Homo sapiens: one gene and its partners. The protein of the gene in region 1 purifies or fractionates together with the protein of each later gene. This does not show direct contact. Each region holds a gene or a part of one and is shown in the gene's direction. Other genes may lie near its edges.

Region 1 (3,955 bases):
TCTTGGTTACTCTTTCCTGGTGTTGTAAAGGTGTCATATTTCAGTTGCCTTTATTATTATATGCAGTAGGAATGAATGGCAACAAATTATTGGTTTAAAGATTTTGACTTGAGTATTAATAGACTTACAAAATCTATGTGTACTTGTTCACAATGAGTTGTAGGATCTTATCTGTTTTTTTCTCTTAAAGCTGATCTTGAATTAATGAATAAACTCATGAAAGGTCTTTTGATGCCCCCTTGCATAACAGTCACCATTCTGATTTTCTGAAGAGAAGCATGTCCTAACTACTAAATGACCTGTAGGGGAAGATTTAGAGAAAAAGCAAAAGGTTGATATCAAGTTCACATTCTCTTGACTTTAGTCAATGAGATTAGGCTCCAAAACCCTTTAAGAGATCTTTCGCATTTTAGTGCTCCATTGTTGCTTTGGGATAGTGTGAAATTTGGAGGCTTCAACTAAACATTTTACATTAAAGTGCTTTACTTTTGCTAGAGTAAAACTTTCCAGAATCTATTCCTGAGATTTGTTTTAACATGTTATGGAAATGAGAGCAGTTATGTGAAAAGTTATCACATTCAAGCATCAAGGAACCAAACAATAACGCTCTCCATATTTATGATGAATTCTAACTTTCATCAGATTTATGAATAAGACAATTTATATAAATGAAATATTGTTTGGTATTAGACATATTTTAGTTTCTTATCCTTTGTTAAATACAAATTCCTAACTTTCTCTAAAATCTTACGATGGAGTGCTTGTGAAGGTTAAAAGTTATTGAAACAGCGGAATTGTAAGCTATATAAGGGGAGGGGTGCTGTATATTATTCTGTATATCATTTTCCATGATAAAGTGTAGGTTCTGGCCTACTGTATTTGAAAGATTTCTACTTTGAAGCAGAAAACATTTTTAAGCTACAGCGTAATAAAATTGTTGATGTTTTGTTACTAATATCATGTATATTAACTAAACCCGCATTTATAAATGATCCGTGAAAAATAACCCAAAGTCGAAACATTAGAATTAAGAGTGACCCAGGAAGTGGCTAAACCGAAAAGAACCTCAGGATCTTTCTTGTACTTACATAATCAGTCACATGATGTCGCTCTACACTCAGAAGGTGAAACAGGAAAATTTTTTTCTCCGCACCCACATTCCAATCATTCACGGAATAGGATCGACTCCATAATGACTGTGATGCTGGAAAAAATTTACTAAATATGTACTTACAGAAAAGGGTGACTGCTCATAAAATACCTCAGGCAAGCGATCCCTTAAAACTGATTGTCCCAACTCAGAGGCCCTCATTTTCTGCAATGGTGATTATCGGACCAAGAGGCCCGGGATCCCAGCGTCTGCTGCTCTCGCTTCTGCTCCTTGCAGCCTGGGAGGTGGGGAGCGGCCAGCTCCACTACTCCGTCTACGAGGAGGCCAAACACGGCACCTTCGTGGGCCGCATCGCTCAGGACCTGGGGCTGGAGCTGGCGGAGCTGGTGCCGCGCCTGTTCCGGGTGGCGTCCAAAAGACACGGGGACCTTCTGGAGGTAAATCTGCAGAATGGCATTTTGTTTGTGAATTCTCGGATCGACCGCGAGAAGCTGTGCGGGCGGAGCGCGGAGTGCAGTATCCACCTGGAGGTGATCGTGGACAGGCCGCTGCAGGTTTTCCATGTGGACGTGGAGGTGAAGGACATTAACGACAACCCGCCGGTGTTCAGAGAAAGGGAACAAAAGGTACCTGTTTCTGAATCTGCGCCTCTGGACTCTCATTTTCCTCTAGAGGGCGCTTCTGATGCGGATATCGGCGTAAACTCTCTTTTGACCTATGCGTTAAGTCTAAATGAGAATTTTGAGCTTAAAATAAAAACAAAAAAAGATAAAAGTATATTGCCTGAATTAGTTCTTCGGAAGTTATTGGACAGAGAGCAAACGCCAAAACTCAATTTATTGCTGATGGTAATCGATGGCGGTAAACCAGAACTAACAGGGTCTGTCCAGATTCAAATAACCGTCCTGGATGTGAATGACAATGGTCCGGCGTTTGATAAGCCCAGCTATAAAGTAGTGTTGTCTGAAAATGTCCAAAACGACACAAGAGTGATCCAACTAAATGCTTCCGATCCAGACGAAGGACTTAATGGAGAAATTTCCTATGGGATCAAAATGATTTTGCCAGTGAGTGAGAAATGTATGTTTTCAATAAATCCAGACACAGGTGAAATTAGAATTTATGGTGAACTGGATTTTGAAGAGAATAATGCCTATGAAATTCAGGTTAACGCCATTGATAAAGGGATTCCTTCCATGGCAGGTCACAGCATGGTCCTGGTGGAAGTTCTGGACGTGAATGACAATGTCCCTGAAGTAATGGTTACTTCACTGTCGCTCCCTGTGCAAGAGGATGCTCAGGTGGGTACCGTCATTGCCCTGATTAGCGTGTCGGATCGTGACTCTGGAGCCAATGGACAGGTCATCTGCTCACTGACACCTCATGTTCCCTTCAAGCTGGTGTCCACCTACAAGAATTACTACTCGTTGGTGCTGGACAGCGCCCTGGACCGCGAGAGCGTGTCGGCCTATGAGCTGGTGGTGACTGCGCGGGATGGGGGCTCGCCTTCGCTGTGGGCCACGGCTAGAGTGTCCGTGGAGGTGGCCGACGTGAACGACAATGCGCCTGCGTTCGCGCAGCCCGAGTACACAGTGTTCGTGAAGGAGAACAACCCGCCGGGCTGCCACATCTTCACGGTGTCGGCATGGGACGCGGACGCGCAGAAGAACGCGCTGGTGTCCTACTCGCTGGTGGAGCGGCGGGTGGGCGAGCACGCACTGTCGAGCTACGTGTCGGTGCACGCGGAGAGCGGCAAGGTGTACGCGCTGCAGCCGCTAGACCACGAGGAGCTGGAGCTGCTGCAGTTCCAGGTGAGCGCGCGCGACGCCGGCGTGCCGCCTCTGGGCAGCAACGTGACGCTGCAGGTGTTCGTGCTGGACGAGAACGACAACGCGCCGGCACTGCTGGCGACTCCGGCTGGCAGCGCAGGAGGCGCAGTTAGCGAGTTGGTACCGCGGTCGGTGGGTGCGGGCCACGTGGTGGCGAAAGTGCGCGCGGTGGACGCTGACTCCGGCTATAACGCTTGGCTGTCCTACGAGTTGCAACCGGCGGCGGTCGGCGCGCACATCCCGTTCCACGTGGGGCTGTACACTGGCGAGATCAGCACGACACGCATCCTGGATGAGGCGGACGCTCCGCGCCACCGCCTGCTGGTGCTGGTGAAGGACCACGGTGAGCCCGCGCTGACGTCCACGGCCACGGTGCTGGTGTCGCTGGTGGAGAACGGCCAGGCCCCAAAGACGTCGTCGCGGGCCTCAGTGGGCGCTGTGGATCCCGAAGCGGCTCTGGTGGATATTAACGTGTACCTCATCATCGCCATCTGTGCGGTGTCCAGCCTGCTGGTGCTCACGCTGCTGCTGTACACTGCGCTGCGTTGCTCAGCGCCGCCCACCGTGAGCCGGTGCGCGCCGGGCAAGCCCACGCTGGTGTGCTCCAGCGCCGTGGGGAGTTGGTCTTACTCGCAGCAGAGGAGGCAGAGGGTGTGCTCTGCAGAGAGCCCGCCCAAGACGGACCTCATGGCCTTCAGCCCAAGCCTTCAGCTGTCTCGAGAAGATTGTTTAAATCCTCCCAGTGAAGTAAGTTATTAATATTATTTAGATATATTTGTTTCCTTGAAGAACTTCCGTTTAGGTTATAACTACATTCTCTCATTTTTCTTTATGATTCTATCCTTTAAACTATCGAATGTCTCATCTTTCTTGGTCATTCTTACTCATTTTGAACTTTTATGTATTTGTCTAACATTAATGAAGGAAATATGTAGGTACAATGGAGGCCATGGAGCACCACACTTAATATTTTTCTTTTTCTATAATATTTTATATGACTGATGAACCTTGAAAA
Region 2 (3,500 bases), on another chromosome or scaffold:
CACACAATCCCCTCCTCTCACACAATCCCCTCCTCTCACAGAACCCCCTCCTCTCACGGAACCCCCTCCTCTCACAGAACCCCCTCCTCTCACGGAACCCCCTCCTCTCACGGAACCCCCTTCTCTCACGGAACCCCCTCCTCTCACAGAACCCCCTCCTCTCACGGAACCCCCTCCTCTCACGGAACCCCCTCCTCTCACAGAACCCCCCCTCACACAATCCCCTCCTCTCACGGAACCCCCTCCTCTCACAGAACCCCCTCCTCTCACGGAACCCCCTCCTCTCACACAGTCCCCTTCTCTCACAGAACCCCCTCCTCTCACAGAACCCCCTCCTCTCACAGAACCCCCTCCTCTCACACAGTCCCCTCCTCTCAGAGAACCCCCTCCTGTCACACAGTCCCCTCCTCTCACAGAACCCCCTCCTCTCACACAGAACCCCCTCCTCTCACACAGAACCCCCTCTTCTCACACAGAACCCCCTCCTCTCACGGAACCCCCTCCTCTCACAGAACCCCCTCCTCTCACACAGAACCCCCTCCTCTCACAGAACCCCCTCCTCTCACGGAACCCCCTCCTCTCACGGAACCCCCTCCTCTCACGGAACGCCCTCCTCTCACACAGAACCCCCTCCTCTCACCGAATCCCATCTCAGTCTTGAGTTTTCCCTCGACTCTGTTGCTTCCGCTCACATCTTAGTGAGTCCCCAGGGCCTCTGCGGGGCATGGAATCACACGTGCAGTGTTCCGGCATGTTCAGCCTGGTGTGTGACAGTGGGGTTCCCTGCCAGGCCAGCAGTGTGCTCTGACTCGGGGCAGGGACCAGGTTCTGTGTAGCTTTGTGCTCAAGTGCTGAGCAGAGTAGACTCTCAGCAGATGTTTGAATGAATGGGTGAACCAATGGCTGCACAAATGAACGAGCCTGACTCTCCCTCATGATTTGGTCCATAGTGTGTTTAAATACCCTCCTAGTGGGCTTTTAGCTCCTTGAAGATGGAAACAGGTTTGCATAGTAAGTTTGTTTTATTGAATGGAATGGACTTAAAGTCTTCGGACTTGGGAGAATTAGGACAGATCTGTTTCCCCGTTGGTAAAGTAAAGGTTGGGCCTGATGATCTCAGAAACTCAGGAAGAGTGATGGTCGGCCCCAGGGTCGAGAGTGAGTTACTGCCAGGTCCAGGGCTGTCCCTGTGTTCTGGCTCCCAGACCACAGTGTTTCTTCCTGAAGCCGGTGGTTGCAGCCACTTTGCCTTGCTCCTCTACGCCTTTCCTGAAGGATGAGGTGGGGCCAGTCTGCCTCTGGGAGCTCGGTCAAGTTCACCCGCCTGCCTGCCTGTCCAGTGAGTAACTAAGCCACCCACCATGGAAGCTTTCATTCAGGGTGCTTTGGAGGGGTTGGCCTGGGGCTGCAGCTCTGTGCTTCATGACCTCGGGTCTCCGGGAGCCTTGCCCCTCGGCAGCCGTTTCCAGGGCCCATCTCTGTGGGCCCACAGGGAGTGGCCTGCTAACCGGGTGCCTGCTTTGCCCACAGGCCAAGTACCTGGCCCAGATCATTGTGATGGGCGTGCAGGTGGTGGGCAGGGCCTTTGCACGGGCCTTGCGGCAGGAGTTTGCAGGTAAGCATGGGTCCGTCTCCCCTGTGGGCTGGGAGTTCCTCTCCAGGTCAGATTTTCCCCGTAGCCATGGGCACCTCAGGCCTGGCGGTTCTGAAGTGTGCGTGGCCTGAGGCACTTCCCATGGTGGGGGGTGATGCCAGACCGGGGCATTCTTCAGTGGTACCTGGTTAGCAAGAGCATCCAGGGCAGGAGCTGGCACACTGGCCCATCTGGATACCTGATTTTGTAAACTTGTTTTTTCTTTTTTTGGAGATGGAGTCTCACTCTGTCGCCCAGGCTGGAATGCAGTGGGGCAATCTTGGCTCACTGCAACCTCTGCCTCCTGGTTCAAGTGATTCTCCTCCCTCAGCCTCCTGAGTAGCTGGGAATACAAGCACCCGACACCATACCAGGCTAATTTTTGTATTTTTAGTAGAGACGGGGTTTCACTATGTTGGCCATGCTGGTCTGGAACGCCTGACTTCAGGTGATCCGCCTGCCTCAAAGTGCTGGGATTACAGGTGTGAGCCACAGCGCCCGGCCCTGGTTTTGTAAATAAATCTTTTTTTTTTGAGACGGAGTTTTCGCTCTTGTTGCCCAGGCTGGAGTGCAATAGTGCGATCTTGGCTCACTGCAACCTCTGCCTCCCGGGTTCAAGCAATTCTTCTGCCTCAGCCTCCTGAGTAGCTGGGACTACAGGCATGCGCCACCATGCCCGGCTAATTTTGTATTTTTAGTAGAGACGGGGTTTCTCCGTGTTGGTCAGGCTGGTCTTGAACTCCCAACCTCACGTGATATGCCCACCTCGGCCTCCTGAAGTACTGGGATTACAGGCGTGAGCCACCGCACCCAGCCCTTTTGTTTTCTTTTGAGACGGAGTCTCACTGTGTTGCCCAGGCTGGAGTGCAATGGTGCGATCTTGGCTCACTGCAACCTCTGCCTCCCGGGTTCAAGCAATGCTCCTGCCTCAGCCTCTCCAGTAGCTGGGACTACAGGCATGTGCCACCACACCCAGCTGATTTTTGTATTTTTAGTAATTTTGTATTTTACAGGTTTTCATCATTTTGGCCAGGATGGTCTCGATCTCTTGACCTCGTGATCTGCCCTCCTTGGCCTCCCAAAGTGCTGGGATTACAGGCGTGAGCCACTGTGCCCGGCCGACAGGCTGCTTTCAAGGCAGAGTTGAATGGTTCCAGTGTAGGCTCATTAGCCCGCAAAGCCTAAAATAGCTACTCTCTGAGCCTTTAGGAAAAGTTTAGCAGCTCCTGATTCTAGGTTCTGGGGTCACTGAAAGGGGAGAGGTCACCCAAGGCAGTGGCTTTGGTGGTCTAGGTGACAGGTGGGCAGCTGGGCCCCTGCAGAGCCCTCTCATGCCCGCAGCCCCACTATACAGTCTCCATCGTAGCCTAAAGCTCCCCAATTTGCTGTTCCCCTGGGATATGGGGGTTGGGGGACAGGGTCATCTCATGGTCTAGGTTGGGGACCAGGAGCCAGGATTAGCGGTCAGATCCTGCCCTTACCCTCCAGTGAGGCACGTCTGTCCTCACTTTCCCAGCCTCTACCCCCTAAAAAGGAAACCACTCCTGGAGAAGAGGCAGCTCCTAGCCACCTGTCCCTGTGTCTCTCATCCTGTGCTGGTGGCAGGGGTGAGCCACCAACTCGGAAGGCCCAGGGTGAAGTGTGGGCTGCTGAGGACTGAGCGATCACCCACATGTCCACACAGCCAGCCGGGCCGCAGCTGATGCCCGAGGACGCGCTGGACACCGGTCTGCAGCCGCTTCCAACCTCTCCGGCCTCAGCCTCCAGGAGGCACAGCAGATTCTCAACGTGTCCAAGCTGAGCCCTGAGGAGGTCCAGAAGGTGAGGCCACTGGGCCACCCCAAAGTTTGAGAGGGAGAGGCTGCCA
Region 3 (3,500 bases), on another chromosome or scaffold:
TTTAAATGAAGCAGCAGAGACAATACTCAAATTGCAAGAGGTTAAAGATTCAGGCCCTTCTGCCCCAATCCCTCCTTTCCTCACTGATGAGGTAATTTTTAGGAGAAGGAACCTCCGAACTTACTTATGTACTGAAAAGAGGGAGCCTGTGTAGATAGAATGAAAATGAAAGGGGCTGGGCGCATTGGCTCAGCCTGTTATCCCAGCACTTTGGGAGGCCAAGGCGGGTGGATCACCTGAGGTCAGGAGTTTGAGACCGGCCTGGCCAACATGATGAAACCCCATCTCTACTAAAAATACAAAAAATTAGCCAGGCATGGTGGCGGGTGCCTGTAATCCGAGCTACTCGGGAGGCTGAGGCAGGAGAATCACTTGAACCTGGGAGGCGGAGGTTGCAGTGAGCTGAGATCGTGACACTGCACTCCAGCCTGGGCAACAAGAGCGAAACTCCGTCTCAAAAAAAAAAAGAAAAGGAAAATGAAAGGAACAGGTGATGAGGTGAAGGTAGTTAGAGAAGATCCACTTAGCAAACAGGAGGATCATTTCTTTCTCATAAATTGCAGTGAAAACAGGAATTTTGGCTTGAAGAGCATACATGATCACCAAACAGAATTGCCTAGGAAGAGATAGAGCCCAGTTTTGGGGTCTGCCTTGTAGTGTGGACTTAAGATAGTGTGGAATGTTTGAGAAACCTTGAATAAGTTGATAGTCAACAGGAGATAAATACGCAGTTTATAAAAGTTTTTTCTAAATGCTCTTAAAAAAAGATAAAAACCCAGAGAATATTAATTAGTTCAGTAATAATAGACCGGTAATTCTGTTTGTTTCAAGGAGTATTAGGGGAACAGATTTGAATTAACCAAGCGTTTACTATGAACAGCTGTGAAGAACTGCAGTACTGGCAAAACTTTTAAAAAGGAGGAGGTGTGGAATTATCTTTATTTTTGCATGTTGTCTTTTGATACTCAAGAAGCAATCCGAGATTCACCAGTTCATTGATACTTTTCTCTTGATGGAATTTTCAAGTTTCATTCTAAGTGCTTACTCTGCATATCAAGCATGTGAATGAGTGAATAAGCTATTTATTTTCTTTAAAAGTTAGCTAAAATAAACTTGTTTTTCTGGTACCAATCTCGTTGTCCATGTTCTTCTGCTAAACATTACATTAGTTGATATTTAAGTGGGATGGTCATTGCAGAAAGTTGGGAAGAAAGTCTCATCACCTCACTGTTAGATTTTACATATGTTTATGTAATTTTGTGAATTACCAGTCTTCTGACTTCAACACAAATAGCAAATTGCAAAGTGTTACTTGGGGTTCTTGGGATGGGTTGGGAAGACATTCTGACAATCTCAGAAGTTCTAAAGAACTAGTTTTATCTTAACTATCACTAATTTGCAAAGTACATGTTCCTTTTTCCTCTGGCTCTAATTCCTCTCTAACAAAAGTATTTCTAAATTTGACATTAATCTCTGGTGCTTCTTCAATTTGTGCATCTGCAAACTGATTTTTTTATTAAATGAGATAACATGAAAATATTTGCAAATATAAGATGATATAATTTCTCTTTTTTTCCTCTGTCGTTTTACAAAGTGATCTGATGTGAAACAAAGGTACAGAAATCTAGTCTTCCTCAGACTTTCAGATTTATAATCATTTTTTTGTTTGTTTTTTTAACTACTAGGACCCTTGAATAGTAGCATATCAGAATACCATGTTGAAAGGAAGCTCAGTCATATAGTCCTATTCCTATTCACTCACCCAACTCCAGACTTTTAAAGTTAACTAACAGTCACCTTTAAGGAAGAATTTACACAGAACTTTCAAAGCAAGTAATAAGCCAAAATAAATATACTTCAGGCAAGTAATGAACTATCCTTTGTGTCTGCAATTGTCTTTAGCTTAATTGATGCCAGGACTGTGCTTAGACTATGTGGACAGGGATGGGAGATTGCTTTTTATCTGATCTCAGGTCCCTGCATTCATAGGCATCTTCCAGATTGCAGAGAGGACCTGTCTTTATCAGTTGCTGTGAGCTGTAGCTTCAGCGTGTCTCTTTACTCCCTAAACATTGCCTGATAACTCCATTTGCTTTTCTCCTTTTTTGTAAGAGGGGAACTTCTTATACATTTTTATTACAAATTGTTTTAAAATACAAAGGAGAAAACTTGTAAGTTGCAGAGCTAAATGTGAGGGGAGGAGATAAATTTGTGTGTTTAATTCCATTCTATTTGTAAATGACCATTTTGATTAAAAGTCTTTCATAGGGCCGGGCGTGGTGGCTCACGCCTGTAATCACAGCACTTTGGGAGGCCAAGGCAGGCGGATCACCTGAGGTCAGGAGTTCAAGACCAGCCTGGCCAACATTGTGAAACCCTGTCTCTACTAAAAATACAAAAATTAGCCAGGCATGGTGGCACACGTCTGTAGTCCCAGCTACTCAGGAGGCTGAGGCAGGATAATCAATTGAACCCGGGATGCAGAGTTTGCTGTGAACCAAGATCATGCCACTGCACTCCAGCCTGGGTGACAGAGTGAGACTCTGCCTCAAAAAAAAAAAAAAAAAATTATAGAATAAAGTAGAAAAGGTACTTTCAAAAATGTTTTAATGTAACAGGAAAAGGATATCTGTTACGCTTATGTTAAACCTGTACCACTGAAAACTTAGATTGTATGTCTTTAAGGTCTAGCTGATATGCCAAAGTTATAAAGTATAGTTGGTAATTTTTGATATATTTGTTATGATTTGGGGCATGGCTAGTCTTGTCATATGTTTAAGTAAAGGAGGTTTGACTTGAAGATTTACTTAGTAGGTGAGGACCAGGAAGTATAGTCTAATCAGTACTACTTTGTTTCTAAACAAGAACATATGCCTCCTTTAGTGAGGGCACAAGTTTGGGCAAAGGATTCTCAGCTACGCCAAAAAAACAGGTTCAACCAAATCACATTTATAGTTTTGTGAAATAACGCCCTCTCCCCAACCCCCAGAAAGGATATTTGAAATTTTAAAATAAGCAGTTGTTAATGTAGAAACTATTTAATCCATACAATGTTCTCCTATCACCTGCTTGTCTTCTTTCACATCGGAAACTTCCACAGGAAATAAAAGTTCCTTTAAAATGATTTTATGAAGAAATTTAGCATACACTTATCAGAATTTGATAAACTTAACTGTAAATAGGCAGGTGTTCTGGGTAACTTAAGTCAGCACAGTTTTTCTTTTTTTATTGCGTATTCATTGTGGCATAAAGTCATTTCTCCTGGATTGAGGACATAATCAGAGCAATTACAGGATGAACGACATCTATGAGATTTCTGAGAGGAATAAAAAGCTGCACGTTTTAGTAATATAGTAGTTGCCACTTATGCAAACTTACAGTTAACAGAATAATGAGTTAAAAACCTGAATTTCTGCTCCTGTTCAAAATTTTGTATTTGGTGCATAACCTTAGGTAAATCACATCTTTTCCCATCTTCTCAGCCTTTTTGGTGGTGATTG
Region 4 (4,183 bases), on another chromosome or scaffold:
GGAAGGGATACCATTAGGAGATATACCTAATGTAAATGACGAGTTAGTGAGTGCAGCAAACCAACATGGCACATGTATACATATGTAACAAACCTGTACGTTGTGCACATGTACCCTAGAACTTAAACTATAATAAAAAATAAAATTAAATTAAAAACAGAAAAAAAATAAAAGTATCAAGGTTGTAAAAAAAAAAAAAATTGGACGGGCGCAGTGGCTCAGGCCTGTAATCCCAGCACTTTTGGGAGGCCAAGGCGGGCAGATCACGAGGTCAGGAGATTGAGACCATCCTGGCTAACATGGCGAAACCCCGTCTCTACTAAAAATACAAAAAATTAGCCGGGCGTGGTTGCGGGTGCCTGTAGTCCCCAGCTACTCGGGAGGCTGAAGCAGGAGAATGGCATGAACCCGGGAGGCGGAGCTTGCAGTGAGCCGAGATCTCGCCACTACACTCCAGCCTGGGTGACAGAGCGAGACTCCGTCTCAAAAAAAAAAAAAAAAAAAAAAAATTGAGGACTTGCCACAGATTAGAGAACACCTAGGAGATTTCATAACAAAACACCTAGGAGATTTCACAACAGGATCCTGGATATTGGATCCTGGACCAGATCCAATGAAGGACATTAGTGGGAAAACTGGCAAAATTTGGGTAAGGCCTATAGGTTAAACGATAATAATGTTAATTTCCTGGTTTTGATCATTGAACTATGATTATGTAAGATGATAACAGACGAAACTGGGTGAAAGGTATATAGGAACTCTGCTGTAGTTTTGTACATCTAAAATCAATTCGGGCCGGGCACGTTGGCTCACGCCTGTAATCCCAGCACTTTGGGAGGCCGAGGTGGACGGATCGCTTGAGGTCAGGAGTTAAAGACCAGCCTGGCCAACATGGTGAAATCCCCTCCCTACTAAAAATACAACAATTAGCTGGGTGTGGTGGCGGGCATCTGTAATCCCAGCTACTCGGGAGGCTGAGGCAGGAGAATCGCTTGAACCCGGGAGGCAGAGGCTGCAAGCCGTGGGTATCGCGCCATTGCACTCCAGCCTCCGCGACAGAGCGAGAATCTGTCTCAGAATAAATAAATAAATAAATAAATAAATAATTAGTTCGAATCAAAAGTTAAAAACACTTCAAGTATATGTAAAAAATCGAAGAAAACGTTAAAAACACTTCAAGTATATACAATTCAAATAAGATCATCCTTCCAAATATACTCTGTAAGTGAGGCGAAGGTCGCTGCACGCTTGAGTGCACGTCTTTCCGCATAGGTAGGACGCTCAAGTCTTACCGGGAGGCTCTCCTAGAGAGCAGCGCGAAGCCATGGCTTTTGGGCCCGGGGACGGACCGTAGCGCGTAGCCGGAAGCGGAGGCGTGGAGGCGGGTCTGAGGTTTGGTGACTGCGGGGCAGGCCGGGGGCAGCTGTCTGTCTGGCTCTTTTTGACAGCCCCCAGTGCGAAAGGCTGCCAGCATGTCATCAGTGAGCCCCATCCAGATCCCCAGTCGCCTCCCGCTGCTGCTCACCCACGAGGGCGTCCTGCTGCCCGGCTCCACCATGCGCACCAGCGTGGACTCGGCCCGCAACCTGCAGCTGGTGCGGAGCCGCCTTCTGAAGGGCACGTCGCTGCAAAGCACCATCCTGGGCGTCATCCCCAACACGCCTGACCCCGCCAGCGACGCGCAGGACCTGCCGCCGCTGCACAGGTAGGCCTGGCTGCCCCCGCGGCGGCGGCGGGCGGCGCGGCCTCCTCCGGGGACCTGGGCCCAGGCCACGGCCTGCCTTGAGCGCGAGGCTCAGTTCGGGGCGGCCTTCGCGGCTCGGTTCCGCCTCTCTGGTGCTATCACTTGCAAAATGGGGATGTCAGATACCTGCCCCATGACCATGAATGAGATCGTTCATGAAGTAGTGCCTGACACCTGGTGAAACTACGCAGTTCCCTACCGTTCTGGATAATTTAATTTGAATCCTCTTCCCCCTCTCCGCAATTCCTCGCCCTCGGTCTTCAGCCTCCTAGGCCAGTGCTTTTAACTTTCCAGGCCCTTTCTTTCTCCCCGGTGATCTCTGCCTTCACTTGCCTTCGCTTTTCACCTTTCTCCCCACTGCCCTTTACTCCTATCCGCCTCCCCTTTTCTGTCACCCATCATTTTTGTCCGCTGAGGCATTCTCTGCTCCGTGAGTTTTAACTTTTCCTGTTTCATTCCTAAACTGCACTATTTGTGGGTGCCTTTCTTCTATACTCCCTGCCACCCTTCTCCTTCTCCCCCTAATCCTTCTGTTTCCCTTTGTAAAGGGCCTTTACTGCTCACATTTTCGCTGGTCCCCCTTTCTGGAACTTTCCTAGCTTCTCACCTCTGCTCCTTCACTCATAACATTTCTTAGGCCCCAGGCTTACTACTATATTGCCCAGTACCCTCGCCCTATTGGTGTGACTTTGGGTGAGAGCTTTAACCTCTATTTCTTTTATTCTGCAATTTGGAAACTGACAGCATCCATCTCTTAGGCAAGTTATGAAGAATAAATTGAATAATGTGTATATTCCACTTTGCACCATGCATGATGGATGACTTTGCTGTCCAGTACTGTGTAGTGCATGTGGCTCGTCAAATTGAGATGATAGAATTGCCAGTTGTCCTGGTTTGCTGCGATTGTCTGTTTTAGCATTGAAAGTCCTATGTTTTAGCCCCTCCGTCCCAGGGAAACCAGGAGGTTGGTCACCCTAAATGTGCTGTAAGTGTACAATACACGCCAGATTTTGAAAAAACTTTTTGATTAATACATTTTATATGGATTAAATGTTGGAAAGGTAATATTTTGAGTACTTGGGGTTAATAAAATGTTAAGATTTCTGCTGTTTTTACTTTATAATGTGGCCACTAAAATTTTATATGTGGTCCACATTATATTTTTATTGGACAATGCTGGTATATCGTATGCTCTCAACAAGTATCTTCAAACTCACCTGCCAAGCACCCGCCTCCTATTCCTAACTCTACTGGAGGTGTTGTGTTTTCAGTTTAGAGCTTCTCCTTTCCTGGCAGTTATCCCTTATTTTTAAATTAGGGGTTCCTGACTCTGAATGGATTTCCGGAGGGTTGGACATGTCTTATTTTTCCTCAAAATCTTGTGACTATGTACATTTTTTTAGGAGAATCCTTTGCTTTCTTCAGATTCTCAAAGGAGACTGGTACCTCCCCCCACCCCCGTTAAAAGAAAGCAAAACAAAGCAACAAAGACCAACAAACCTTCCACAGCAGCCCAGTATTCATTTATATTGTAAAAGCCTTGATTTTCTCAAGCATGGAAAATATTTTGGCTCCCATCTGACCTGCTTTGGTTATTGCCTGAGTGGAATTGGTCACATTCCAAGTTTCAGTACTCTTTGATAAATTGTATTGGATTCTAGTTTCCCAACATACGACTCTGCTCCTTCTGCTTACTTTTCCCAAATTATTTTGCCTTCTGTGCCCAGGCACACTTAGTTCCCTGTCTAGGCAAGAGTGGTCATTATTAGACTTCATTTTCTTTCTACTGTGCATATGTATTGATTAGCCATGGGCACATTGTGAACTTGAAAAGTCGATTTAGTCACATTTTAAGTTTCACTATTTGTTGGTATTATTCTGGCAAGATTTTGGAAGGTTTTTATTATTTATTCATTTGTGTATTTTTTGAGACAGAGTCTCATTCTGTCTCCTCCGCTGAAGTGCAGTGGCGTGATCGTAGCCCACCGCAACCTTGATTGAACTCCTGGGCTCAAGTGATCGTCCTGCCTCAGCTTCTGGAGTGGCTGGGACTATAGGCGTGCACCACTACACCCAGCTAATTTTTAAATTTTTTGTAGAAATGGGGTCTCACTATGTTGCTTAGGCTGGTCTCAAACTCCTGGACTCAAGCTATCCCCTGCTTTGGCCTCTGGAGTAGCTGGGACTATAGGCAAGCGCCACCATACCCTTCAGGTTTTTAATTTATTTTATGAAAATCCCTCCAAAGCAACAATCCTCAATTCTCCTGCTTGAAAGTAATCACTAATAATCAGGTACTGTGTGATCTGATCCTTGATGTTCATATTATTGCCTTTAACTGAGTAGCAATGTTAAAATTTAATCATTTAAATTAGAAAACATATATTGAAAAGTCTTCATAGAAGTCCGGCATTATAAGAACTCATCAGACCATCTAGT
Region 5 (4,110 bases), on another chromosome or scaffold:
GAATTTGGGGCCTAGGAACCGAGGGCACACGGGACTCTAGCCTCATCCCCAGGACCCCCTTGGCTCAGAGTGTGGTGCTAGAAACTGGCCCCCAGCCCAGCCCCAGTACTGCCACCTTTACACCTACCCCTGCAAGTCCCCAGAGGGCTGCCCACGATAGAAGCTGCCAAGCAGGGAGAACCTGTGCCAACTGTGGAGTGGGGAGGTTGGGCCTGGACCCTCAACCCCTGCAACCTTCCCTAGCCCCCTCAATAGATGAGCAGGTCAGGCTGTGGCCCTTACCTCACCCGCAGTTCTCGCCCAGTGCTGCAGCCGGCTCACCTCTCTCCGCTTCTTGCACATCACTGGCCTGTGTGTGCTGCTTGCTCCTGTTCTGTTCGCTTGCTCCCGTTCCGTTCGGCTTTTGCTTTGCGTTAGGGTGAAGACCCTAGCGTCCAGCTCCCCTCAACGCTATATTTTGACACTAAAAAAGAAGGTTTCTAAATTGTAGGAGCAGGATGGAAATACTTTGCTGCCCTTGCCATCTTTTAGGATGGGCCCCCAGGAGACTGAGGTCTTCCTGGGCCCTCATTGCTGCTTATCGTACCCCCCATCACCTGCACATGGGACAGACCGGGCTGGAGGGTGACCTTGGCTGTGTGCGTCCCAGCAAAAGAGCTCTGGCCCGCATCTCGCTGTGCCCTGAAGGGGGATGAAGGGCGATGCCTCGCCCGAGGCTTTGGGCTGCTGCACTGCATGCTGGGACTGCTCCTACTCTCTGTCCCACCCCTCACCCAGCTGTGGTCCGGCTTTGGGAGAGTGGTGAATTGCGCTGCCCGAACTCGGAGCGGAGCAGGGTAGGGACCGTGTACAGCTTGATAACCCTTAATAAAAAGGGAGTTTGACCAGACTTCTTGTTGTCTCGCGCGGCTAGAATCCTGGGAACAAGAGAAATGGGATGGGGACTCTGCCGGGGTCTAGAAGAAAGTATGTTTAGGCCGTCGCTCAGATACGCTGAGCAAGGCGGCTGGCGGAAGGGCAGCTTCCGACCCACAGTTCCGTGGAGGTCTGTGTCCTGCCCCGAGCCAGGATTCCGTGAGGTCTGTTTCCAGCCCCGAGCCACGATTCCGTGGAGGTTTCCAGCTCGGCCTGGTCGTCAGATTTCCCGCCCTGGGCACGTGACCAAGCCGGCTCTGCTTCTCTAATTTGCATTCGTTGCCTGCACCATTCCCCCCGCTCCCCCCTCGGAGACATTTGGCCAATGGGAGCCGTGGGTAGGGGCTGTGGGCGGGGCTACAGCCGTGGAGCGCGGTGCGAGTCCAACACCGAGCATTCCCGTGGGCCTGCAGTTGGCAGGAGGGTCCCGGGCCCAGAGCCAGCGGGGCCGTGCTGAGACGGCGTACGTGCCCTGCGTGAGTGCGTGGCGGCGGCGCGTGCGCTAGGGGAGTGGGCGGTGAGGCCTGGTCCACGTGCGTCCCTTCCCGGGACCCCCGCAGCTTGGCGCCCAGCGGCTACGTGAGCCAAGGCACCCGGATGTCCGCGCCCCTCTCCGAGTGACCAGTCCCGGCCTCCGGTCCCGCAGTGCCCGCAGCCTCGGCCGGCGTCCACGCATTGCCATGGTGACTGTGGGCAACTACTGCGAGGCCGAAGGGCCCGTGGGTCCGGCCTGGATGCAGGATGGCCTGAGTCCCTGCTTCTTCTTCACGCTCGTGCCCTCGACGCGGATGGCTCTGGGGACTCTGGCCTTGGTGCTGGCTCTTCCCTGCAGACGCCGGGAGCGGCCCGCTGGTGCTGATTCGCTGTCTTGGGGGGCCGGCCCTCGCATCTCTCCCTACGTGCTGCAGCTGCTTCTGGCCACACTTCAGGCGGCGCTGCCCCTGGCCGGCCTGGCTGGCCGGGTGGGCACTGCCCGGGGGGCCCCACTGCCAAGCTATCTACTTCTGGCCTCCGTGCTGGAGAGTCTGGCCGGCGCCTGTGGCCTGTGGCTGCTTGTCGTGGAGCGGAGCCAGGCACGGCAGCGTCTGGCAATGGGCATCTGGATCAAGTTCAGGCACAGCCCTGGTCTCCTGCTCCTCTGGACTGTGGCGTTTGCAGCTGAGAACTTGGCCCTGGTGTCTTGGAACAGCCCACAGTGGTGGTGGGCAAGGGCAGACTTGGGCCAGCAGGTGAGGGACTCTGTGGGAAGGGGGAAGCCTCTGCTGGCCGGGCTTGGGAGAAAGCACTGCATGTCCAGTCACACTGCTTCCAGGCTTTAGGATGCCTCTAAGCAAAGGGAGAAGGGAGGGGCTGAGTCCTGCCGGGAGCTGATAGCCAGCTGGTGGGGTGTGTCTTTGCTGAGTCACTGTGGTTTTGCTTTTTTTTTTTTTTTTAAGCCTGTAAGTGCTGAATGTGTTCATGACACCAGTCCCCGGCCCTATTATAAGTAGTAATACAATGAAATTTTATCCTCAATGATACTCTCTCCACTTATATTTCATTCTAGGTTCAGTTTAGCCTGTGGGTGCTGCGGTATGTGGTCTCTGGAGGGCTGTTTGTCCTGGGTCTCTGGGCCCCTGGACTTCGTCCCCAGTCCTATACATTGCAGGTTCATGAAGAGGACCAAGATGTGGAAAGGAGCCAGGTACACCTCAGTTTCTTTTTTTTTTTGGAGACGGAGTCTTGCTCTGTCACCAGGCTGGAGTGCAGTGGCGTGATCTCAGCTCACTGCAACCTCCACCTCCCGGGTTCAAGCGATTCTCCTGCCTCAGCCTCCTGAGTAGCTGGGACTACAGGTGCATGACACCACACCCAGCTAAGTTTTGTATTTTTAGTAGAGACAGGGTTTCACAGCATTGGCCAGGATGGTCTCGATCTCTTGACCTCGTGATCCGCCTGCCTCAGCCTCCCAAAGTGCTAGGATTACAGGCGTGAGCCACTGCGCCTGGCCTCTTTTTGTTTTTAAGACGGAATCTTGCTCCGTCACCCAGGCTGGAGTGTAGTGGCGCGATCTCAGCTCACTGCACCCTCTGCCTCCTGGGTTCAAACAATTCTCGTGCCTCAGCCTCCCAAGTAGCTGGGATTACAGGTGTGTACCCGGCTAATTTTTGTATTTTTAGTGGAGATGGGGTTTCACCATGTTGGCCAGGCTAGTCTTGAACTCCTGACCTCAGGTGACCCACCTGCCTCGGACTCCCAAAGTGCTGGGATTACAGGCATGAGCCACTGCACCAGACCCCACCTCAGTTTCTGAATCCTGGAGTCTCTTCATTTCATTCCCTGTCATCATTCCTTCCCCCAAAATGAAATGCTTCTTTTCCAAATCTCAGTTTGCAACTTAGTTTTTCTGACCCCATCAAGGATCACTTGTGGGTCTGAGATACCTGGGAGCTGTAACCCCATAGGTTTTTCCCTGAAGGGTTTCTGGCTAGTGCACTTACTTGATTTCTGAGCTCCCTTCCTACGTGTTTCACCATCCTAGGTTCGGTCAGCAGCCCAACAGTCTACCTGGCGAGATTTTGGCAGGAAGCTCCGCCTCCTGAGTGGCTACCTGTGGCCTCGAGGGAGTCCAGCTCTGCAGCTGGTGGTGCTCATCTGCCTGGGGCTCATGGGTTTGGAACGGGCACTCAATGTGTTGGTGCCTATATTCTATAGGAACATTGGTGAGCAGGAGGAGCACCAGCTCAGTGTGCTGGTCCTTCATCAGCCTGGTGGCTGGGATGGTCCTTACCTAGGGAGGTGGGACAGAGCTGGGTGGTCAGAAAGAGACTGTGGCTGGTACCTGGGGCCATTTTGCCTGAAGAGAGTCCTGGGCGCCATAAGTGGGTTCTGACTCGTTTCCTCCACAGTGAACTTGCTGACTGAGAAGGCACCTTGGAACTCTCTGGCCTGGACTGTTACCAGTTACGTCTTCCTCAAGTTCCTCCAGGGGGGTGGCACTGGCAGTACAGGTATGAGAGACTCCGCCCTCACCCTGCTAGGTATAGGTCCCTCCCACAGGCATTCCCTCAGCATCCGCCTCTCCCAGCATTCCTCCCCAGCCCCCATGTACTCTCAGACCTTTCACATCCTGGTGCTGGGCTGACGTCCCTCAGCTCCCAGGCCCTACTGAGGCGTCCCCCGGCTCCCTGCAGGCTTCGTGAGCAACCTGCGCAC
Region 6 (3,500 bases), on another chromosome or scaffold:
TATGCTGTGAATGGGGGAATATGCCAGGGCACCAGTAGCCTGTGAGGGCAAGAGGAGCTCAGTAGGGATCAGTTTCTGCTCAGCGCCTGGGCTGGGCCCTGAGGTGTTGGCGTTGAGATGGGAATGGGCTGTGCAAAGAAAGCACCCCAGGCTCCTGTACCAAACGACTCAGACTGGTTGTATCTGCAAATTGAAGGCCTGTAGGAATGTAGGTGGGACCAAAGGTGGTCTCTAGAGTGCCTAGAGTTAGGGCCAGGAGCCAAGCAGGGCGGGGATCATATTGTTGCAGGGACATAGTTCATCCCATTACTTACTTATGGAATCCCATCGCTTAAGACTGATGAACATAGCATTTTGTCCTGAGACAGACAGATTGAGCACAGCAAATGCCAACAGGAAGCCAGTAAAACGGGCCTCACATCAGACAGGTTCACCTCAGATGAGCTTAGAACTCCTTGTTGCCAATGGGGGGAGGTGGGTTTAACTATCCAAATTGGAAACAGAACCTGAGATAAAGAATTTAACAAAAAAATGCATACAGCATCAATCATTTGAAACATAAGTAAATCTGCAGAAAACATATCATAGTCTGGGTAAACCCCTTCCCTGCAAAAAGACCAACGCTAAGATTCAAGATCTAGGCAGTTAAAATCTGGAATATAATGATTGTGGAACTCTGGAATTTTCCTGAGTTCTGGACAAGGACCGGAAGCTCCTGCAGGTGCTGAGGCAGGGTGGGGAGGACAGGACACACACGCAGAAGCAGCGCGCACAAACCCCAGGAACGCACCAGGGCCAGGGTGCCCAGAGGTACAGGATAGACGTGGCTCATCTTCCCAGAAGCCTGTTTTGCTCAGGATTAGTGAAAAGTAGGAAGTTGTAAGTGCTCACCATTAGTTTAATAACAACTTTGCTTTGCAGAGTGGAGGAGGGAGGAAGCTACCTTAACAGCACACACTGAACTCGAGCCCGATGCTAATTTCAAAAAGATTAAACCATTGAATACATTTACATCCTAGGATTAAGAAAAGTAATTTGAAACATTTTAATATTAAAACAGACATGGATGAAGATAGAGAGTAGAATGGCTGTTGCCAGTGCAGCGGGGGATGGGGAGTTGTTTAATGAGGACAGCTTCAGTTTGGGGAGGTGAAAAAGTTCAGGAGATGGATGGTGATGATGGTTTTACAACAATGTGGATATACTTCATGCCCTTGAACTGTACACTTATCATGGTTAAAATGGTAAATTTTATGTCATTAAACTTTTTCTTTCTTTCTTTCTTTTTTTTTTTGAGACAGGATCTCTTGCTCTCTCACCCAGGCTGGAGTGCAGTGGTGCAATCATGGCTCAGTGCAGCCTCGACCTCCCGGGGTCAAGCCATCCTTCGGCCTCAGCCTCCTGAGTAGCTGGGAGTACAGGAGCGTGCCACCACACCTGGTTAATATTTGTATTTTTTGTAGAGACAGGGTCTCACTATGTTACCCAGGCTGGTCTCAAACTCCTGAGCTTGAGTGATCTGCCCTCCTCAGCCTCCCACAGTTCTAAGACCACAGCTGTGAGCAGCCATGCCTGGCCGTGAATCTTTTATCACAATTTTTAAAAAAGAAATGTATGAAGGCATAGGAAACAATTTTCTATAATTTTAAGACGTAAAATATGAGATTTTCAGTCCATTCTGCTCAGGATCACATTCCCTCTCCCCATATTAGTGGAAAAGTTGGAGAATCCACAGTTAAGGAGGCCTCAGGATCTTTTGCACAGAGCAGTCCTTTTAGCCATAAATTACTTAGTAGTTCCCAGAGTTTATTTATAACTCTGAACAATGCCTTCCCTACACCACCATTTTTGCTAACAATGAGATCAGGAGTCTCAAACGCAAGGAAAAGAAGAATGGAATGGAGTGGGTGGGTCTAGGCGGGGCTGGGGCTCGGGGGAGGCCTTCAGCTCCCGTCACCAGGAGGCCCAGAGGGGAAGGGTGAGAGAGGCAGATAGCTTGGGGCTCTGACAGAAGGACAGGGTCCTCTTGAGGTTGCTGTAAGCATCAAAGGGGCTCATGTGTGTAGGAGGCAGGTCACAGGCTTTGCCCATCACATGTCAGACGCGAGAGGACATGGGATGAGTGTGTACTAGGTGGCCGTGGCTTTATATGTTAGTATCTCAAGCCTCATCACAAGCATCTTCGTTTTACAGACGACCACACAGCGGCTCTGAAAGGTTGGGTAACTTGTCTAAGGTCATGTGGCTCACAAGTCATGGAGCCAGAATTTGCATATGGGGTAGCCTGGCTCCATCTCAGCCCCGGAAGAGGCACTGAGCCCTGGTGTGCCTTCCCAAACAGGCAGCTGAGTGCTCCCAGGAAGACGGTGTTGGGCCGCTCAGCCCTCTGACTCACACCTCAGAGCAGCCTGGGGCCCTCCCATCCTCTCCAAGTTTCCCTGCCCAGCCCCACCCTGGGCCCCAGTGTGTCCCCGAAGCACCAGCCAAGGAACAGCTGCCCAGTGTACATTCTCTGTTCCGTCCACTCACCACTCTCCATTTTCCTATGCACTCTGGTCTTTAGGATTCAAGAAGGGTAAGATTAGCAACCTTCAGCCTGGGAAGTTGCCCCTGACTTCTCTCTGGGCTGTTAACTGACTGGTGCTAACCTTGAGGGGCAGAAGATGGGTTTTCCGTGACACTTCTGGGATACACAGTGGCCTGATGGCCTGGTCTCACTGTGGCTCTGCTGATTTTTGGCAGTGAGCGCGGGGAGGCAGTTTCACTGAGTTGACCTACTGTGTACTGGGTTATCATAGTGCGATGCTGAGTAAGACAAGCTCCTGGCCCGCACCAGGTTCACCAACTAATACAGGAAAGTGACAAGGAGGCAAGCCATTAGAAGGCAGCACATGAGTGGTGGCACGCACCAGCAGTCCCAGCTACTTCGGAGGCTGAGGTGGGAGCATCGCTTGAGCCCAGAGGTTCAAGGCCAGCCTGGACAACGTAGTGAGATCCTGTCTCTTAAAAAATAAAAAAGAGAGGCTGGGTGCAGTGGCTTATACCTGTAATCCTAGCACTTTGGGAGGCCGAGGTGGGTGAATCATCTGAGGTCAGGAGTTCAAGACCAGCCTGGCCAACATGGTGAAACCCCATCTCTACTAAATTGGGCGTCATGGCAGGTGCCTGTAATCCCAGCTACTTGGGAGGCTGAGACAGGAGAATTCCTTGAACACGGGAGACGGTGGTTGCAGTAAGCCGAGATTGTGCCACTGCACTCCAGCCTAGGTGGCTGAGCAAGACTCCGTCTCAAAAATAAAAATTAAAAAAATAAAAATAAAAAAGAGACAGCTCTATTCTGTGAAAGTTGTGGAAACCAAGGGGAGGGAGGAGCACCTATTTCACCTTGGAGAGGGTCAGCCCAGTGTCCGTTAAAAAAGCCACCTTTAAATCAGTTCTGAAGGATGGAGGAGGTGGCAGCAACAGGACAATCATCACTCTAATTCCCAGGGCTTGTCTTT
Region 7 (3,500 bases), on another chromosome or scaffold:
AAGTACCTGGGATTGCAAGTGCATACCACCATGCCCAGCTGATTTTAGTATTTTTAGTAGAGATGGGGTTTCACCATGTTGGCCAGACTGGTCTCAAACTCCTGACCTCAAGTGAATCGCCTGCCTTGGCCTCCCAAAGTGCTGGGATTACAGGTGTGAGCCACCACACCCAGCCTATATATATTTTATTCATCCATTCATCAGTTGATGTACATTTGGGTTGTTTCTACTTTTTAGGTACTTTTGTTTTCTAAGAGGAAGGTTATATGTGGATAATGCGGCTATGAACACTTGCATACAAGTTTCTGTGTGGACATATATTTTCAGTTCTGTTGAGTATGTACCTAGGGGTAGAATTCCTGGGTCATATGGTAACTCTATGTATTAAACTTTTTGAGAAACTGCAAAATTGTTTTCCAAAACAACCATATAATTTTATTTCTGCCAGCAATATATGAGGGTTCCAGTTTATCTGCATCCATGCTAACACTCGTTACTGTTCATTGTTTTGAACATAGTCATCCTAGTAGGTATGAAGTGGTTGTGATTTGCATCTCCCTAATGACCAATGATGTTGAACATGTTTTTCTTTTTCTTTTTTTTTGAGACAGAGTCTTGCCCTGTCGCCCAAGCTGGAGTGCAGTGGCACAATCTTGGCTCACAGCAACCTCCGCCTCCTGGGTTCAAGTGATTCTCCAGCCTCAGCCTCCCGAGTAGCTGGGATTACAGGCGTGTGCCACCACGCCCAGGTAATTTTTGCAGTTTTTCTAGCAGAGATGGGGTTTTACCATGTTGGTCAGGCTGGTCACGAACTTCTGACCTCAAGTGATCAGCCTGCCTCGACCTCCCAAAGTGCTGGGATTACAGGTGTGAGCCACCGTGCCCAGCCTTGAGCATCTTTTTATATACTTTGGCCAGTATTTCTCCTTTGGAGAAATAATCTATTTGAATTCTTTATTCTAGATACCAGTTACTTATTAGATACAGCATTTGAAAATATTGTCTCCCGTCCAGGAATGGTGGCTCACGCCTGTAATCCCAGCACTTTGGGAGGCCGAGGCAGGAGGATCCCTTGAGGTCAGGAGTTCAAGACCAGCCTGGCCAACATGGTGAAACCCTGTTTCTACTAAAAATACAAAAATTAGCTGGGCATGGTGGCACGAGCCTGTAATTCCAGCTACTCAGGACGCTGAGGCAGGAGAATCGCTTGAACCTGGGAGGCAGAGGTTGTAGTGAGCTGAGATTGACCCAGTGCACTCCAGCCTGGGTGACAGAGCAAGACTCCATCTCAAAAAAACAAAAAAGGAAAATAAAATATTGTCTCCCATCCTCCCCTCCCCTCCCCTCTTCCCCTTCTGCAAGGCCTTGCTCTGTTGCTAAGGCTGGAGTGCAGTGATGTGATCTCAGCTCACTGCAGCCTCCACCTCCTAGGCTCAAGTGATCCTCCAATCTTACCCTCTCGAGTAGCTGGGACTACAGGCATACGCCAGCACGCCTGGCTAATTTTTTCTATTTTTTGTAGGGACAGGGTGTCCCTATGTTGTCTAGGCTGGTCTCAAACTCCTGGCTGGGCTCAAATCATCCTCCCACCTTGGCCTCCAAAGTGCTGTGATTACGGGTGTGAGCCACCTGTGCCTGGCTGAGCATCTAATTAATATGCATCAGACATAGTCCTAAGTACTTTTAGTGTATTCTTTCAGCTAATCCTGAAATAGTAATACAATATGGCTGTGGGTATTAGATCCATTTTTAAATGATGAAACTGGGCTCAGGGAAATTAAGTTTCTCACATAAGACTGCATCTAATGCCAAGCTCAATGGTCTTTTTATTGTGCTTTTTAGGGTACATCCAAATAACTGATGTTTACTTGGGAAATAAATTTGTATTAAATTGGAATTCATTTAAAACATTGGTTCATTTTCAGAATGGAAAACCTATGAAAAGTTATGAGGAGATTTTTAAAAATAATTGAATCAAACATCAGTAGTTTCAGATTAACCACAATTTAAGTGATTGAATTAAAACAATTATTTTTATTTGGAGGAAGAGAAAAAAATCAGAACATTTGGATAACTGATGTCGGCATTTTGTCTTTGCCTGTCAACACTGCAAATAAACATTCATTTTGAGAAAGACAACTTCTCATTTTCTTTTTAATTTATTAAAAAATTTTGGCCAGGCACAGTGGCTCACACCTGTAATTCCAGCACTTTGGGAGGCCGAGGCGGGCGGATCATGAGGTCAGGAGATCGAGACCATCCTGGCTAACACAGTGAAACGCCGTCTCTACTAAAAATACAAAAAAAAAAAAAATTAGCTGGGCGTGGTGGCGGCCACCTGTAGTCCCAGCTACTCGGGAGGCTGAGGCAGGAGAATGGCGTGAACCCAGGAGGAGGAGCTTGCAGTGAGCCGAGATCGCGCCATTGCACTCCAGCCTGGGCGACAGAGCGAGACTCTGTCTCAAAAAAAATTAAATAAAATAATAATTTTTTTTTTTGAGACACTCTTGCTGTGTCACCCAGGCTAGAGGACAGTGGCATGATCACAGCTCATGGTAGCCTTGACCTCCTGGACTCATACAATCCTCTTACCTCAGCCTCCTGGGTAGCTGTGACTACCTGGCATATCACTACATCTGACTTTTTTTTTTTTTTTAAATGGAGATGGAGGTCTCACTCTGTTGCTCAGACTGGTCTTGAACTCGTGGCCTCCAGTGGTCTTCCTGACTTGGCTTCCCAGAGTGTTGGGATTACAGGTGTGGGCTACCACACTCAGCTTCTTCTCATTTTCATTTACAATTTTAAAAGTAGGCATGGAGCGTTTGGCCATTTGGATGTTCAAAAGACTTCATTATTTTGTGTTTTTGTGTGTGTTTGCTTCATTTTATAATCATTATTTTTTAACTGTTGCATTATGATTTAATTTCATTGCACAAAAATTTGAAATTGCAACTGCTTTTCTTTTCTTTTCTTTTTTTTTTTTTTTGAGATGGAGTCTCACTCTGTTGCCCAGGCTGGAGTGCAGTGGTGCGATCTCAGCTTACTGCAGCCTCCCCCTCCCGGGTTCAAGCAATTCTTCTACCTCAGCCTTCTGAGTAGCTGGGATTACAGGTGCGTGCCACCATGCCCAGCTAATTTTTGTATTTTTGTAGAGACGGGGGTTTCACGATGTTGGCCAGGCTGGTCTCGAACTCCTGACCTTGTGATCTGCCTGCCTCAGCCTCCCAAAGTGCTGGGATTACAGGCACAAGCCACCATGCCTGGCCCGCTTCTTTTGTTTTCTAAGAGGAAGGTTATGTATACCTCTATATTCAATTCTGCATTGTTATATTTGAACCATATTGTGAACTTTACATTGTGATGGGTCATTTTAGAACTTCCATGTAACACTAAATTGCAATATGGAAACCAGTTTTTAAAACTGAGGAAAGTTTTCATGCTAAAAAACAAAAGCCACTTTTTATGGACAACTTACTTTGGATTACAATGTACCAGGTTGC

What was found.
Region 2: the proteins of PCDHA12 (region 1) and PAM16 purify together in Homo sapiens (affinity purification with mass spectrometry; 2 studies listed by BioGRID and IntAct, with this or other methods). This does not show direct contact.
Region 3: the proteins of PCDHA12 (region 1) and EIF2AK3 purify together in Homo sapiens (affinity purification with mass spectrometry; 2 studies listed by BioGRID and IntAct, with this or other methods). This does not show direct contact.
Region 4: the proteins of PCDHA12 (region 1) and LONP2 purify together in Homo sapiens (affinity purification with mass spectrometry; 2 studies listed by BioGRID and IntAct, with this or other methods). This does not show direct contact.
Region 5: the proteins of PCDHA12 (region 1) and ABCB6 purify together in Homo sapiens (affinity purification with mass spectrometry; one large-scale study listed by BioGRID and IntAct). This does not show direct contact.
Region 6: the proteins of PCDHA12 (region 1) and KLRG2 purify together in Homo sapiens (affinity purification with mass spectrometry; 2 studies listed by BioGRID and IntAct, with this or other methods). This does not show direct contact.
Region 7: the proteins of PCDHA12 (region 1) and NEK4 purify together in Homo sapiens (affinity purification with mass spectrometry; 2 studies listed by BioGRID and IntAct, with this or other methods). This does not show direct contact.

Annotation. Positions count from the first base shown.
Region 1 is NC_000005.10:140,874,153-140,878,107, forward strand, and holds the start of PCDHA12 (protocadherin alpha-12 isoform 1 precursor), read left to right. Parts: upstream 1-1,155; 5' UTR 1,156-1,320; coding exon 1,321-3,687; coding exon of another isoform or gene 3,688-3,699; exon of another isoform or gene 3,700-3,737; intron 3,738-3,955. UniProt on the Homo sapiens protein: Potential calcium-dependent cell-adhesion protein. May be involved in the establishment and maintenance of specific neuronal connections in the brain.
Region 2 is NC_000016.10:4,341,322-4,344,821, reverse strand, and holds part of PAM16 (mitochondrial import inner membrane translocase subunit TIM16), read left to right. Parts: intron 1-1,530; coding exon 1,531-1,615; intron 1,616-3,317; coding exon 3,318-3,454; intron 3,455-3,500. Other genes in the region: CORO7-PAM16 protein, read left to right, coding at 1,531-1,615, 3,318-3,454. UniProt on the Homo sapiens protein: Regulates ATP-dependent protein translocation into the mitochondrial matrix. Inhibits DNAJC19 stimulation of HSPA9/Mortalin ATPase activity.
Region 3 is NC_000002.12:88,620,965-88,624,464, reverse strand, and holds part of EIF2AK3 (eukaryotic translation initiation factor 2-alpha kinase 3 isoform 1 precursor), read left to right. Parts: intron 1-3,500. UniProt on the Homo sapiens protein: Metabolic-stress sensing protein kinase that phosphorylates the alpha subunit of eukaryotic translation initiation factor 2 (EIF2S1/eIF-2-alpha) in response to various stress, such as unfolded protein response (UPR).
Region 4 is NC_000016.10:48,242,917-48,247,099, forward strand, and holds the start of LONP2 (lon protease homolog 2, peroxisomal), read left to right. Parts: upstream 1-1,383; 5' UTR 1,384-1,472; coding exon 1,473-1,705; intron 1,706-1,943; exon of another isoform or gene 1,944-2,087; intron 2,088-4,183. UniProt on the Homo sapiens protein: ATP-dependent serine protease that mediates the selective degradation of misfolded and unassembled polypeptides in the peroxisomal matrix.
Region 5 is NC_000002.12:219,216,159-219,220,268, reverse strand, and holds the start of ABCB6 (ATP-binding cassette sub-family B member 6), read left to right. Parts: upstream 1-1,310; 5' UTR 1,311-1,595; coding exon 1,596-2,144; intron 2,145-2,461; coding exon 2,462-2,599; intron 2,600-3,436; coding exon 3,437-3,617; intron 3,618-3,803; coding exon 3,804-3,905; intron 3,906-4,088; coding exon 4,089-4,110. UniProt on the Homo sapiens protein: ATP-dependent transporter that catalyzes the transport of a broad-spectrum of porphyrins from the cytoplasm to the extracellular space through the plasma membrane or into the vesicle lumen.
Region 6 is NC_000007.14:139,456,174-139,459,673, reverse strand, and holds part of KLRG2 (killer cell lectin-like receptor subfamily G member 2), read left to right. Parts: intron 1-3,500.
Region 7 is NC_000003.12:52,746,941-52,750,440, reverse strand, and holds part of NEK4 (serine/threonine-protein kinase Nek4), read left to right. Parts: intron 1-611; coding exon 612-749; intron 750-3,500. UniProt on the Homo sapiens protein: Protein kinase that seems to act exclusively upon threonine residues. Required for normal entry into proliferative arrest after a limited number of cell divisions, also called replicative senescence.